Linked DNA regions of Homo sapiens: region 1 is linked to region 2. Evidence: fine-mapped expression QTL. Tissue or cell type: cerebellar hemisphere. Region 2 holds a variant in brackets; the other region holds the start of a gene. All regions are shown on one strand. Distances are between the middles of the regions.

Region 1 (8,102 bases), 400 kb before region 2:
ACCTCAGCCTCCTGAATAGTTGGTAGTACAGGTGTGTACCATACCCGATTAATTTTTGTGTATTTTGTAATTTTGTGTATTTTGTAGAGACAGGATTTCACCATGTCGCCTAGGCTGGTCTCGAACTCCTGGACTCAAGCGATCCTCCCACCTTGGCCTCCCAAAGTGTTGTAGTTACAGGTGTGAGCCACTGCGCCGGCCATAAATTACACTTAAAAAAAATAAAAAGTATTGAGGCCGGGTGTGGTGGCTCACGCCTATTATCCCAGCACTTTGGGAGGCCAAGGCAGGTGGATCACAAAGAGTTCAAGACCAGCCTGGCCAAGATAGTGAAATCCCGTCTCTACTAAAAATACAACAATTAGCCGGACGCAGTGCCAGATGCCTGTAATCCCAGCTACTTGGGAGGCTGAGGCAGGAGAATCGCTTGAACCCAGGTGGCAGAGGCTGCAGTGAGCCGAGATCATGCCACTGTACTCCAGCCTAGGCAATAGAGTGAAACTCTGTCTCAAAAAAAAAAAAAAAAAAAAAAAAATATTGGCCGGGCGCAGTGGCTCACACCTATAATCCCAGCACTTTGGGAGGCCGAGGTGGGAGGATCACTTGAGGTCAGGAGTTTGAGACCAGCTTGGCCAACATGGTGAAACCCCATCTCTACTAAAAATACAAAAACTAGCTGGGCATCATGGCATATGCCTGTAATCCCAGCTACCCAGGAGGCTGAGGCAAGAGAATCACTTGAACCTGGGAGGCAGAGGTTGCAGTGAGCCGAAATCGTGCCACTGCACTCCAGCCTGGGTGTCAGAGTGAGACTCTGTCTCAACAACAACAACAACAACAAAAATACAATTTACCATAACCTAGCTAAGTACCAGCTGTGTACACTAACTTACTTCTTTTCATAGAATTCTGTTTCAGGGTTACTGAAGTACAACATAACCAGAATCTATGATTCCATATAGATTTCCAGACCAGAAAATGCTTTATCCTTCCAAGCCACCTCCAGTAACTTACAATGCTCATCTGGTAAACAGGTTGTTTTACAAAAAACTTCCCTGTAACATCCCAATAGTCATGACACTGTCAATTGCCTGGTTTTGTATTTTTAATAGGGAACGAGGGCCGGGCACGGTGGCTCACGTCTGCAATCCCAGCACTTTGGGAGGCTGAGGCAGGCGGATCACCTGAGGTCAGGAGTTTGAGGCCAGCCTGACCAACATGATGAAATCTCATCTCTACTAAAAAATACAAAAATTAGCCGGGCGTGGTGGCATGCGCCTGTAATCCCAGCTACTTGGGAGGCTGAGACAGGAGAAACGCTTGAACCCAGGAGGCGGTGGTTGGGGCGAGTGCCACTGCACTCCAGCCTGGGCAACAAGAGCGAAACTCTGTCTCAAAAAAAAACTTAAAAAAATCAAAACAAAAATGTTACTTATTTATTTATTTTTTTGAGCTGGAGTCTCACTATGTTGCCCAGGCTGGAGTGCAGTGGTGCAATCTCTGCTTGCTGCAAGCTCCACCTCCCGGGTTCACGCTATTCTCCTGCCTCAGCCTCCTGAGTAGCTGGGACTACAGATGCCTGCCACCACGCCCAGCTATTTTTTTTTTTTTTTTTTTTTTGAGACGGAGTCTTGTTCTGTCGCCCAGGCTGGAGTGCAGTGGCGCAATCTCGGCTCACTGCAAGCTCCGCCTCCCAGGTTCATGCCATTCTCCTGCCTCAGCCTCCTGAGTAGCTGGGACTATAGGTGCCCGCCACCACGCCCCGGTAATTTTTTGTATTTTTAGTAGAGACGGGGTTTCACCATGTTAGCCAGGATGGTCTCGATCTCCTGACCTCGTGATCCACCTGACTGGGCCTCCCAAAGTGCTGGGATTACAGGCGTGAGCCACCGCGCCCGGCCAATTTTTTTGAATTTTTAGTAGAGATGGGGTTTCACCGTGTTAGCTAGGATGGTCTCCATCTCCTGACGTCGTGATCCACCTGCCTCGGCCTCCCAAAGTGCTGGGATTACAGGCTTGAGCCACCGGGCCCATCCACTTATTTTACTTTTTGAGACAGTCTCACTCTGTTGTCCAAGATGGAGTGCAGTGGCACGATCGTGGCTCACTGCAGCGTTGAACTCCCAGGCTCAGGTGATCCTCCCATCTCAGCCTTCCTGAATAGCTGGGACTACAGACATGGTCCAACATGTCTGGCTAATTTTTCTATGTATACATATTTTCAATTCTCATTCAACACCTTTGGTAAATTTTTGTACTTTTTGTAGAGACGGGGTTTTGCCATATTGCCCAGGCTGGTGTTGAACTCCTAAGCTCAAATGATTTGCCTGCTTTACCCTTCCAAATATTTTAGTTTTTGAGAAAGCTCTCACTATTTTACCTAAACTGGTCTTGAACTCCTGATCTCAAGCAATCCTCCTACCTCAGCCTTCCAAAGAGCTGGGAATGGCAAAAATGTTACTTATCAAAATGAAAGGCCAGGTGTGGTGGTTCACTCCTATAATCCCAGCACTTTGGAAATGCGAGGCAGGTGGATCACCTGAGGTCAGGAGTTCAAGACCAGCCTGGCCAATATGGTGAAACCCCATCTCTATTAAAAATACAACAATTTGCCAGGCATGTTGGCACAGGCCTGTAATCCCAGCTACTGAGGAGGCTGAGGCAGGAGAATCACTTGAACCTGGGAGGCAGAGGTTGCAGTGAGCCGAGATTGCACCACTGCACTCCAGCAGGCAAAACAGAGCAAGACCCTGTCTCAAAAAAAAAAAAAAAAAAAACGAGAGAGAATAGGTCATAGAATAAAAACATTTCAGCTCAAATTTTATTTAGTTAATTACTATTATTATTCTTTTTTGTAGCATCGGAGTCTTGCTATGTCACTCTAGCTGGCCTCAAACTCCTGGCCTCAAGCGATTCTCTTGCCTCAGTTTGCAAACTGCTGGGATTACAGACATCACCATGCCAGGCCACAACCCAAACTTGAAAAAGAAAATCTAAGTGGCCTTAGAAGAGTTTGCAAGTCAGCTGACCAATGTGGTACCTCCTTAAGGAGGGCCTCTGAGGCCCGATGAAAAAGGCTTATATAAAAGGCTCATGACCAGCTCTGCCAGTGATGAACATGTGTCAAGTCGTTCTGCTGTCCCCAACTCCCGGACCCAGGTGGCTCTGAATTAGCTTCAGCTAATAAAGAACAAAGACGGGGGGCAGAAAGGCTCCCCAAACTTGTGCAAATCCAGTGAGAAAACACTTTGCACATCATCTGTCTCAGCTGTTCTGCAGGTGAGGCACACTCAGAACTGCACCACCCCAGGCAAGCAGTTTGCCAGGACTCGGGGGCCTCAGGGTTTCATCTCGGGGCCTCCGCCTGCACCAGCGAGTGGGCCTGGCTCAGGGCGAGCCTGTCCTTCTTCTCCTTCTGCAAGACCTGCTCCTCCCACAGCGCCTGGTCCACCTGATCGTCGGTGAGCACGACAGGCTTGTACTTCTCATCGAAGAGCCGCTCGTTGGTCTCGGAATGCAGCTGCTGGGGCCCGACCACCCGCAAATGCGCCGGCAGGTGCAGGAATTCGTCGTCGTTGATGTCGCAGTCGCGCATCCAGGCCCCCAGCACCCACCAGCGACCCACGAAGCCCACGTCCAGGACCCGGCCGGGGAAGTCGGTCCAGCGGGGCTGCAGGTAGCGGCAACGCGCCTGGTAGAGGCTGGCCTGGGCGTCGAAGGGCGCCTCGTACACCAGCGAGCAGAGCCCCAGGTTGACGTAGCGCAGGCGGCCACGGCCCCGCAGCCAGAGCAGCCTCTGCACGAAGGCTTCGGACTCGCGGTTGCGGGTGGCCGGCGCCAGCAGCAGGAGGGTCCCCGACGCCTCCAGCAGCGCCTCCTCGAAGGCACCCTCGCTGGGCGCCAGCGTGAAGCAGGCCGCCGCGCCGCCCAGCAGACCCACATACACAGCGGCGCGCCCCGGCCGGGCCCTAGCCTCCGCCGAAGCGTCCCTGCAGGCCTCGGCGTAGTCCCGGAGCAGCGCGCGGGCCCAGGACCCTGAGGGGAGAGGAGCGCGGTAAGAGTGATCCGGCCGCGGCGGCCACCCACCCTGTCGCGGCGGCCACCCACCCTGCCGCCTTCCGCCGCTACTCACCCAGCCGCGCCCACACTCCCGGCTTCGCCACTACCGCGTCGCCCGCCTCTGCGCGGCGCCGGGACCAAAATCTCCTCAGAGCCGCCGCGGCCATCCTCTTCCGTCTTGGGGGTCCTTGCTCCGGGAAGAAACTCCTGATACCCGACGTTAAGAGCCCGGGAGTCTCTTCTGCGCAAGCGCCAACTTTACCGGAAGTGGCTTCCCAACGGGAGAGGATAGAAAGAGGACAGGCGCCGGATGTTGCTGTCAGGTCTGAGTCGGTTGGAGTCTGACGGGTAGGCGAGACGCGCAGGCGCAGAGAGCCCCAGCCACGCCGGCCCAGGTGGCCTCAGGTGAGGGGGGGCGGAGCGCACCTGTGGGGACGGGACGACGAGTTCAAGCCTCCGTGGGTGCAGTTGGTCGCCAGGTAGGGCTGGGGGCCGAGGGACCGGCTCGGGGGCGGGGGGGAAGTGTGCCTGACCGGTCTCTGTCCTCAGCGAGGGATGCGGAGACGCCCCTGAACGACCATGGCATCGGCCGACGAGCTGACCTTCCATGGTGAGTGCGGCCCCGACGTGGCCGGATCTCCCACTCCCGCCCCGGGCCAGAACCTCCCCCCGATACGGCTTCCAATTTCTCTACCCCGAAGCCTAGGCGGCTGTGAACCCTGACCCAGGAGTGAGACCCATCTCTGACTCGAACCCCGCCCCCGCCCTGAACTCAGACCTCAAACCCGAGCCTCTCGTCCCCAGACCCTGACCCCATCCCAGCGTCAACCCTAAGTTGCAGTTCCACTTTAGGAGGAAGGGAACAGATGTCCTCCGGATGCCTCCAAACTGAGGAAGTTGGGCCCCACCTTGGGGGAGATCAATGGCTCAGCAGAGCCTCCGCCCCCAGATGAGCATCGGTTTAGCTTGGGCCCAGTCGAGTTCTTTCCACCCCTCAAACGTGCGTGTGTCCCATATACCTCCTCCACAGAATTCGAGGAGGCCACTAATCTTCTGGCTGACACCCCAGATGCAGCCACCACCAGCAGAAGCGATCAGCTGACCCCACAAGGGCACGTGGCTGTGGCCGTGGGCTCAGGTGGCAGCTATGGAGCCGAGGATGAGGTGGAGGAGGAGAGTGACAAGGCCGCGGTGAGTCCCTGTGTCCTGCCTCCTTGCAGCCCCCAGCTGACCCAGGCTCTCCGGGCAGGCACTGAATGCCCGCAATGTGCAGCTCCTGCAGGAGCAGCAGCAGCAGCAGCAGCCGGGATTCTGGACCTTCAGCTACTATCAGAGCTTCTTTGACGTGGACACCTCACAGGTCAGGCTGGGGAGGCAGGTGGGATGGGGCTCAGAGTTATGCTCAGGGTTCAGCCACTCTTCCCCTGGGCAGGGTGCTGGTGATGGTGGGTGCTGGTGAACGAACTGTGGTGCTCTCAAAGGGTTATGGTGGGACTGGTTATGGATCGGGACTATGGGAACACAGGGGACACACACAATCTGGTGGGTTAGAGAAAGGCCTCCTGGGGGAGGTGAGGAATTGGCTGAGACCTAAAGGAGACAGAAGGCTTCCCTGGGGAATAGGGTAGGGAAGCAGGAGTATATGTTCCAGGCACAGGGAACAGCATATGCAGAAGACCAAAGATGGACTGGGCGCAGTGGCTCCTGCCTGTAATCCCAGCACTTAAGGGGGCCGAGGTGGGCAGATAACCTGAGGAGTTCAAGACCAGCCTGGCTAACATGGGGAAACCCCGTCTCTACCAAAAATACAAAAACTGCCGGGTGCGGGGTGGCTCATGCCTGTAATCCCAGCACTTTGAGAGGCCTGGGTGGGTGGATCACCTGAGGTCAGGAGTTTGAGACCAGCCTGGCCAAACATGGTGAAACCCCGTCTCTACTAAAAATACAACAAAATTAGCCGGGCTTTGTGGTGGGCGCCTGTAATCCCAGCTACTCTGGAGGCTGAGGCAGGAGAATCGCTTGAATCCGCCAGGCGGAGGTTGCAGTGAGCCAAGATCGTGCCAGTGCACTCCAGCCTGGGCAAAAAGAATGAGACTCTGTCTCAAAAATAAAATAAGATAAATAAAATAAAATTAAATAAAAAATAAAATAAAATAGAAAAATTAGCCAAGTGCAGTGGTCGGCGCCTGTAATCCTAGCACTTTGGGATGCCGAGGCGGTGGATCACTTGAGGTCAGGAGTTGGAGACCAGCCTGGCCAACGCGGTGAAACCCCATCTCTACTAAAAATACAAAAATTAGCCAGGCATGGTGGCACACACCTGTAGTCCCAGCTACTCAGGAGTCTGAGGCTCGAGAATCACTTGAACCTGGGAGGCGGAGGTGGTAGTGAGCCAAGATCGTGCCACTGCACTCCAGCCTGAACAGAGTGAGACTCTGTCTCAAAAAGAAAAAGGGGGTGCTGAGGCCGGGTGCGGTGGCTCACGCCTGTAATCCCAGCACTTTGGGAGGCCAAGGTGGGAGGATCATGAGGTCAGGAGATCGAGACCATCCTGGCTAACACGGTGAAACCCCATCTCTACTAAAAATACAAAAAATTAGCCGGGGGTGGTGGTGGGCGCCTGTAGTCCCTGCTCTTTGGGAGGCTGAGGCAGGAGAATGGTGTGAACCCAGGAGGCGGAGCTTGCAGTGAGCCGAGATGGCACCACTGCACTCCAGCCTGGGTGACAGAGCGAGACTCCGTCTCAAAACAAAAAAAAAAAGAGGGAAAAAAAAGAGGGGGCTGGGAACGGTGGCTCACGCCTGTAATCCCAGTACTTTGGGAGGCCGAGGTGGGTGGATTACCTGAGGTCAGGAGTTCGAGACCAGCCTGGCCAACATGGTGAAATCCCGTCTCTATTAAAAATACAACTATTAGCCAGGCGTGGTGGCACACGCCTGTAATCCCAGCTACTCGGGTGGCTGAGGTAGGAGAATTGCTTGAGCTCGGGAGGCAGAGGTTGCAGTGAGCCGAGATCATGCCACTACTCCATCCAGCCTGGCCGACAGAGCAAGACTCTGTCTCAAAAAAAAAAAAAAAAAAAAAGAGAGGGAAAGGCTGAGTTCTTTCAGGTGGGGCATGGAAAGAGAAGGGTGGAGGTCAGCAGGGAAGGAGCCTCTCAGGACAAGGGAGAAGCTCCTGGCAGACTTCCATCCTTGACCTTGGCCTTGCCCCCAGGTCCTGGACCGGATCAAAGGCTCACTGCTGCCCCGGCCTGGCCACAACTTTGTGCGGCACCATCTGCGGAATCGGCCGGATCTGTATGGTGAGTGAGGTTGTGCATTTGGTTCCTTGATGGATCACTCAACAAGTGTGGCCTGAGTTGCAGATGCCAGTGTATAGCTGCGGACAAATCAGTCACTCAGACAGTGTGACTTACCTGCTGTTCAGGGAGACAGAGACATGAAGGACTGCAGAGGGTGGCGGGTAGAGAGCAGCAGAGCAGACAGGAGGAGTGGCCCTGCAGTTCTGCAGGGTGCAGCAGGGCAGGCCTCCCTGAGGAGGGTGAGGGAATGAGCCTTGTTGGCAACAGGAGGGGTGGGGGAGACCTAGGAAAAGAGGCTTCCAGAAACGACGTAAGCTTCATGGCAGGAACTTGCATGAACTGCAGGGCGGCATTACCACTGGAGCGAGTGAGCTGCAGGGAGGTCACAGGCGAGGGGACAGATCACACAAGCCTCCCATGCTGTGGCAAGAAGAGATCTTTTTTTTTTTTTTTTGAGACAGAGTCTCACTCTGTCACCCAGGCTGGAGTGCAGTGATGTGATCTCAGCTCACTGCAATCTTCCCCTCCCGCATTCAAGCGATTCTCCTGCTTCAGCCTCCTGAGTGGCTGGGATTACAGGCACGTGCCACCATGCCCGGCTGATTTTTATATTTTTATTAGGGACGGAGTTTCACCGTGTTAGCCAGGCTGGTCTCAAACTCCTGACCTCAGGTGATCCACCCGCCTCGGCCTCCTAAGTGCTGGAATTACAGGTGTGAGTCACTGTTATCTGGCCGAG
Region 2 (8,102 bases):
GCCCTTGAGTAGAACCCAATAAGATAACATTTCCTTCTACTGACTGCATTGTGGCGTCTGTGCATGAATTTTATCCTGGGCCTCTCAACTATTCAAAAAATGTTTCCATGCATCTCCACCCAGTTCCCATGCCTCTTAGTGAAATAAATCATGCCCGGAAATCCCTCCCAGGCAGAGCAGTTGTTGGAACAAATTACAGTCTTGAAGAAAACGTTAACTATGTGGATAGGTACTTTCTCACAATAGATCATGTTCCTTGTCAAACTTCCCCTGTTTCTTGGGGCCATCCAGTCCCGCCTCTCATGCATCCATTACCCTGTGGGTTACATGAATGATGTTCTATAAAAGAGTCCTGCTAATTGCTGCCTTTTTTTTTTTTTTTGAGACAGAGTCTCACTGTTGCCTAGGCCAGAGTACAGTGGCGCAATCTTGGCTCACTGCGACCTCCACCTCCAGGGTTCAAGTGATTCCCCTGCCTCAGCCTCCTGAGTAGCTGGGATTACAGGCTTGCACCACCATGCCCAGGCTAATTTTTTTACTATTAGTAGAGACGGGGTTTCACCATGTTGGCCAGGCTGGTCTTGAACTCCTGACCTCAGAAGATCGGCCCGCCTTGGCCTCCCAAAGTGCTGGGATTACAGGCATGAGCCACTGTGCCTGGTCTTGCTGCCTTTGGCTGAAAGGATGAAAAACTCTCTCTCTTTTCTTTTCTTTTTTTTTTTTTTTTTTGAGACGGAGTCTCACTCTGTTGCCCAGGCTGGAGTGCAGTTGCATGATCTCGGCTCACTGCAACCTCCATCTCCCGGGATCAAGCGATTCTCCTGCCTCAGCCTCCCGAGTAGCTGGGACTACAGGCACGTGCCACCATGCCCAGCTAACTTTGTATTTTTAGTAGAGACAGGGTTTCACCATATTGGCCAGGCTGGTCTCGAACTCCTGACCTCGTGATCAGCCTGCCTCGGCCTCCCAAAGTTCTGGGATTACAGGCATGAGCCACCGCGCCCTGCCACAAAACTCTTTCATTCAACAAATGTATCCAGGGTACCTACTATGCATCAGACACTATTTTGAGTCCAGGCTGCAGCAATGGAAAATCCACACTGTTGTCTCCCCTTGGGGTTTTGGAGATGGGGTGGAGCAGAGAGATGATGAACTCATTACACAAATAATTATACAGTTATGTTTGCAGTAATGATCAAGTAAGAACATACAAGCTTACAAAAGGGGAAGAAACTGATTCTGGGGGCTGTGATCCAGGAGGACTTCTCTGGGGAAGCCACATTTAAGTTGGGTTCTGTATTAGTCAGAGTAGGTCAAGATTTGCTGCAGTAACAAACCAGCCCAAAGCTCAGTGGTTTAACACAATCAAAGTTGATTTCTCCCTCAGGCTATTCATCCTATATGGACTGGCAGGGGCTCAGCTCCACACAGTCATTCAGGAGCCCAGGATGACAAGTCTCCCGTCATCTTGTGGCTGCACTATCTGAAACTCTCTGCTTCAGTTATCACAGAGGAGCAAGAGGCAGACAGGAGAGCCATGCATAAGTTTTTGGATGCCTCTGTTCAGAACTGAAAGACATATAGAATAATGTATGCCACCTCACTCCCACTTCAATGGTCAGAATTAGTCAGGAGAGCCAGCTATCTGCAAATGGCAGTTTTTCATTCAATGGATTGTTGTCTATGCTAGAAATGTCTATCATGGAATCTAATGGATGAGTAGGAGTTAGCAAAAAAAAAAAAGGGGGGGAAGGAAATGTATTCCTGGTAAGACAAACGGCACATTCCCAGACACTGGAGGCTGGGTGCAGTGGCTCATGCCTGTAATCCCAGCACTTTGGGAGGCCAAGGCAGGCAGATCACTTGAAGTCAAGAGTTTGAGACCAGCCTGGCCAACATGGTGAAACCTGTTCTCTACTGAAAATACAAAATTAGGGCCCGGTGCAGTGGCCCACATCTGTAATCCCAGCACTTTGGGAGGCCAAGGTGGGCGGATCACGAGGTCAGGAGTTCGAGACCAGCCTGGCCAATATGGTGAAACCCCATCTCTGCTAAAAATACAAAAATTAGCCAGGCGTGGCAGTACACGCCTGTAATCCCAGCTACTGGGGAGGCTGAGGCAGGAGAATGGCTTGAATCCAGGAGGCAGGGGTTGCAGTGAGCCTAGATTGTGCCACTGCACCCAGCCTGGGTGACAGAGCAAGAATCTGTCTCAAAAAAAAAAAAAGAAAGAAAGAAAAGAAAATTAGGCTGGCCTGGTGGCAGATGCCTGTAGTCCCAGCTACTCGGGAGGCCGAGGCAGGAGGATCACTTGAGCCCAGGAGGAGGAGGTTGCAGTGAGGCAAGATTGCGCCACTGCACTTCAGCCTGGGCAAAAGAGTGAAACTCTGCCTCAAAAAAAACAAAGAGTCAAGTAAAGAAAAAAAAAGCAAGTACCCCTACGTGGACAAATTATACATCATAGTAATTACACTTCTCAACAGTATCCTTCAAAGAGAAACAAAATTACATTTTTATTAAAGCAATAAAAAGAATGTATGCTGTTTGCCAGGCATGTTAGCTCACACCTGTAATCCCAACATTCTGGGAGGGCGAGGTTGGAGGATCCCTTGAAGCCAGGAGTTCAAGACCAGCTTGGGTAAAACAGTGAGCTCATGCCTATAATCCCAACACTTTGGTAGGCCAAGGTGGGTAAATTACTTGAGCCCAGGAGATCCAGACCAGCCTGGGTAACATGTGGAGACCCCATTTCTACAAAAACTAAAAATGAAAAAATTAGCTGGCCATGGTGTTGCATGCCTGTGATCCCAGCTACTTGGGAGGCTAACGGAAGAGGATCATTCGAGCCCAGAAGGTCAAGGCTGCAATAAACTGTGTTCCACTGCACTCTAGCCTGGGTGACAGAGTGAGACCTTAACCCCCACAGCCCCCCCCAAAAAAAAAGAAAGAAAAGAAGGATGGACTGCACTGTGAGTGTCGTGATCAATAGAGACGGAGTTTCGCTCTTGTCGCCCAGGCTGGAGTGCAGTGGCGTGATCTCGGCTCACTGCAACCTCTGTCTCCCGGGTTCAAGTGATTCTCTTGCCTCAGCCTCCAAAGTATCTAGGATTACAGCATGTGCCACCACGCCCAGCTAATTTTGTATTTTTAGTAGAGACAGGGTTTCACCATGTTGGCCAGGCTGGTCTTGAACTCCTCACCTCAGGTGATCCACCCACCTTGGCCTCCCAAATTGTTGGGATTACAGGTATGAGCCACTGTGCCCGGCCTGTTTCTAATTTTTTTTTTTTTTTTTTGAGACAGAGTCTCGCTCTGTCACCCAGGCTGGAGTGCAGTGGGGTGATCTCCGCTCACTGCAAGCTCCGCCTCCCGGGTTCACACCATTCTCCTGCCTCAGCTCCGGAGTAGCTGGGACGACAGGCGCCCGCCACTGCACCCGGCTAATTTTTTGTATTTTTAGTAGAGACAGGTTTTCACCGTGTTAGCCAGGATGGTCTTGATCTCCTGACCTCGTGATCCACCTGCCTCGGCCTCCCAAAGTGCTGGGATTACAGGCATGAGCCACCATGCCCAGCCTGTTTCTATTTTTTTTTAGATAGGATCTTGCTCTGTC[G/A]CCCATGCTGGAATGCAGTAACGTGAACATGGCTCACCGCAGCCTTGAACTCCTGGGCTCAAGCGATCCTCCCTGCCTCAGCCTTATGAGTAGCTGAGACTGCAGAGGCCCACCACTACACCACCAGGCCTGGCTAATGTTTTCTTTTTCTTTTTAGAAATGAGGTCTCACTTTGTTGCCCAGGCTAGTCTTGAACTCCTGGCTTCAAGCAATTCTCCCCCCTGTGCCTCCCAAAGTGCTGGGATTACAGATGTGAGCCACCACACCCAGCTAGTAATAACTATCCAAACCACAATTAGACACCACTTCACGTCTTCTAGTATGGCCACAATAAAAATCAGAAAATAGGTCTGGGGGCAGTGGCTCATATCTCTAATCCCAGCACTTTGGGACGCTGAGGCAGGCAGATCACCTGAGGTCAGGAGTTCGAGACCAGCCTGGCCTACATGGCAAAACCCCATCTCTACTAAAAATACAAAAAGTAGCTGGGCATGGTGGCGTGCGCCTGTAATCCTAGCTACTCGGGAGACTGAGGCAGGAAAATCACTTGAACCTAGGAAGTGGAGGTTTCAGCGAGCCGATATCGCGCCACTGCACCCCAGCCTGGGTGACAGAGTGAAACTCCGTCTCAAAAAAACAAAAAACAAAAAACAAACAACAACAAAAACAAACAAAGAAGAAATTAACGAGTGTTGTTGAAGATTCAGAGACATTGTAATCCTTATACATTGCCGGTGGGAAGGTAAAATATTGTCATTGTTTTATTATTATTATTATTATTATTATTATTATTTTGAGACAGACTTTCACTCTTATTGCCCAGGCTGGAGTGCAATGGCATGGTCTTGGCTCACCACAACCTCCACCTCCTGGGTTCAAGCGATTCTCCTGCCTCAGCCTCCCAAGTAGCTGGGATTACTGGCATGCACCACCACACCTGGCTAATTTTGTATTTTTAGTAGAGATAGGGTTTCTCCATGTTGGTCAGGCTGGTCTTGAGCTCCCAACCTCAGGTGATCCGCCCGCCTCTGGCTCCCAAAATGCTAGGATTATAGGCGTGAGCCACCACTCCCGGTCTTATTATTATTTTTTTAAATGCATTTCTTCCTTCTTTTTCTTTTGTGTTTTTTTTAGGGACAAGGTCTCATTTTGTTGCACAGACTGGAGTGCAGTGGTGTGATCATGGCTCGCTGTAACCTGGAACTCCTGGGTTTAAGTGATTCTTCCACATCAGCTTCCTGAGTAGCTGTGACTACAGGTGCACATTACCATGGCTAACTTTTTATTTTTTGTAGAGATGGGAGTCTCGTTATGTTGCTCAGGCTGTTCTAGAACTCCTGGGGGCAAATGATCCTCCCACACCAGCCTCGGAAAGTTCTAGGTTATAGGCATGGGCCACTATGCCTGGCCAGTGGTGCCATTGCTTTAGAAAATGGTCTAGGCTGGGTGCAGTGGTTCATGCCTACAATCTCAGCACTTTGGGAGCCTGGGGAAGGTGGATCACCTGAGCCCAGGTGTTCGAGACCAGCCTGGCCAACATGGCAAAACCTTGTCTCTACAAAAAATACAAAAAAATTAGCCAGGTGTAGGCCGGGCGCGGTGGCTCACGCCTGTAATCCCAGCACTTTGGGAGGCCTAGGTGGGCGAATCACAAGGTCAGGAGATTGAGACCATACTGGCTAACACGGTGAAACCCCATCTCTACTAAAAAGTACAAAAAAATTAGCCAGGCGTGGTGGCAGGCGCCTGTAGTCCCAGCTACTCGGGAGGCTGAGGCAGCAGAATGGCGTGAACTCGGGAGGTGGAGCTTGCAGTGAGCCGAGATCATGCCACTGCACTCCAGCCTGGGTAACAGAGCGAGACTCCGTCTCAAAAAAAAAAAAAATTAGCCAGGTGTGGTGGCACATGCCTGTAGTTCCAGCTACTCGGGAGGCTGAGGTGGGAGGATCACTCAAACCGAGGAGTTTGGAGTTACAGTGAGCCATGATAACAACAACACTGCACTCCAATCTGTGCAACAGAATGAGACCCTGTCTCAAAAAAAAAAGAGAGAGAGAGGAAGGAAGGAAGGAAGGAAAGGGAAAGGAAAGGAAAGGAAAAGAAAGGAAAGGAAAGGAAATAAAAAAGAAAAGAAAAGAGTCTAGTTGTTTGCTTTGGAAAACAATTCCTCAGGTTCTAATATGAGCCAACAATTGCATGCCTAGGTATATATTCAACAGATAAGAAAACATACAAACATATAAAATGCACGTATGGAAATGTTCATAGCAGCATTATTCTTGCCAGGTAAAAAGTAGAGAAAACTCAAATGTCCATCAGCTGATGAATAGAAAATTAAAATGTCCTATATTTGTCCATGCAATGGAATATTACTCAGCCATAAAAAGGAATTAAGTTGGGCTGGGCACGATGGTTCATGCCTGTAATCCCAGCACTTTGGGAGGCCGAGGTGGGAGAATCACTTGGGCCCATGAGATCAGGACAACATAGCAAGACCCCATCTCTATTTCAAAAAAAAAAAAAAAGGCCAGACGCAGTGGCTCATGCCTGTAATCCCAGCACTTTGGGAGGCCAAGACGGGTGGATCAGGTCAGGAGTTTGAGACCATCCTGACCAACATGGTGAAACCCAGTCTCAACTAAAAATACAAAAATTAGCTGGGTGTGGTGCTGCGTGCCTATAGTCCCAGCTACTTGGGAGACCGGGGCAGGGAGAATCACCTGAAGCCAGGAGGCAGAGGTTGCAGTGAGCTGAGATCCCACCGTGCCACTGCACTCCAGCCTGGGCAACAAGAGCGAGACTCCATCTCAAAAAAAAAAAAAAAAAAGAAAAAGGAATGAAGTACCGATTCATTCTAAAATGTGAGTTGACCTTCAATCATTATGCTTAGTGCAAGAAGCTAGTCACAGAATACAATAAATTATATGATTCCACTGATATAAAATGTCCAAAATAGGCAAATCCTTGGCGGGGCTCAGTGGTTCACCCCTGTCATCCCAGTACTTTGGAAGGCTGAGGCGGGCAGATCACTTGAGGCCAGGCCTTGGAGACCAGCCTGGCCAACTTGGTGAAACCCCACCTTCACTAAAAATACAAAAATTAGCCACGCATGGTGGCGCGTGCCTGTAATCCCAGCTACTCGGGAGGCTGGGGCAGGAGAATTGCTTGAACCTGGGAAGCGGAGGTTGCAGTGAGCCAAGATCACACCACTGCACTCCAGCCTGGGGGACAGAGTAAGACTCTGTCTCAAAAAAAAAAAAAAAAAGGCAAATCCATAGACACAGAAAGCAGATTCGCGCTTGCCATGGGTTGGGAGGCGGGGGAATGGGAGTGATTGCTAAATGAGTATGGAGTTTATTTTTTCGTTTGTTTGTTTGTTTATTTATTTATTTTGAGACATGGTCTTGTTCAGTCAGCCACTCTGGAGTACAGTGGTATGATCTTGGCTCACTGCAATCTCTACCTCCTGGGCTCAAGCAATTCTCCCACCTTATCCCCCTGAGTAACTGGGTCCACAGGTGCACCCCACCACACTTGGCTAATTCTTTAATATTTTTGTAGAAATGAGGTCCCACTATGTTGCCCAGGCTAGTCTCCAATTCCTGGGCTCCAGTGATCCTCTCACCTGGCTTCCCAAAGTGGTGGGATTACAGGCATGAGCCGCTGTGCCTGGCCAAGCATAAGGAGTAGTCCCAACTACTCAGGGGGCTGAGGAAGGAAGATTGCTTGAGCCCAGGAATTGGAGGCTGTAGTGAGCTAGGATCACACTGCTGTACTCCAGCCTGGTCGCCAAGGCAAGGCCCTGTCTCTAAAAATTAATAATAATAGCAGGGCGCTCTGGCTCACGCCTGTAATCCCAGCACTTTGGGAGACTGAGGCAGGTGGATCACCAGGTCAGGAGTTCAAGACCAGCCTGGACAAGATGGCGAAACCCAGTCTCTACTAAAAACACAAAAAAAGGCTGGGCGCGGTGGCTCGTGCCTGTAATCCCAACACTTTGGGAGGCCGAGGTGGGCAGATCATGAGGTCAGCAGATCGAGACCATCCTGGCTAACACGGTGAAACCCCATCTCTACTAAAAATACGAAAAATCAGCTGGGTGTGGTGGCGGGTGCCTGTAGTCCCAGCTACTCAGGAGGCTGAGGCAGGAGAATGGAGTGAACCCGGGAGACGGAGCTTGCAGTGAGCCGAGATCACACCACTGCACTCCAGCCTGGGCAACAGAGTGAGACTCCGTTTCAAATATATATATATATATATGTGTGTGTATATATATATGTATATGTATATGTATATATATATGTATATGTATATGTATATATATATATGTATATGTATATGTATATGTATATGTATATGTGTATATGTATATGTATATGTATATGTATATGTATATATATATGTATGTAAAAAAACATAAAATAAAATAAATCAGCTATCAAGCCTTGAAAAGACATGGCGGAAGCTTAACTGCCTATCACTAAGTGAA

What was found. PIP is the estimated chance that this variant, and not a neighbour inherited with it, causes the effect.
Region 1: YIPF2 starts here. The variant in region 2 is fine-mapped to the expression of YIPF2 in cerebellar hemisphere (GTEx, PIP 0.96).

The regions. Positions count from the first base shown.
Region 1 is chr19:10,924,947-10,933,048 of GRCh38, reverse strand. YIPF2 (Yip1 domain family member 2) reads left to right here and starts at 4,410. Exons shown (of 10, transcript NM_001321439.2): 1 at 4,410-4,538; 2 at 4,609-4,669; 3 at 5,090-5,250; 4 at 5,333-5,419; 5 at 7,276-7,363. The coding sequence starts at 4,639. It overlaps TIMM29 (translocase of inner mitochondrial membrane 29), which reads right to left and starts at 4,238. Exons shown (of 2, transcript NM_138358.4): 1 at 4,133-4,238; 2 at 2,795-4,035. The coding sequence starts at 4,226. The coding sequence ends at 3,347. RefSeq lists silencers at 3,793-3,842, 3,883-4,162 and enhancers at 4,376-5,076, 5,077-5,779.
Region 2 is chr19:10,525,912-10,534,013 of GRCh38, reverse strand. No RefSeq gene overlaps it. Among named protein-coding and RNA genes, the nearest start is that of S1PR5, 13 kb to the right of the region's middle. The variant G/A (reference allele first, on the strand shown) is at 3,614.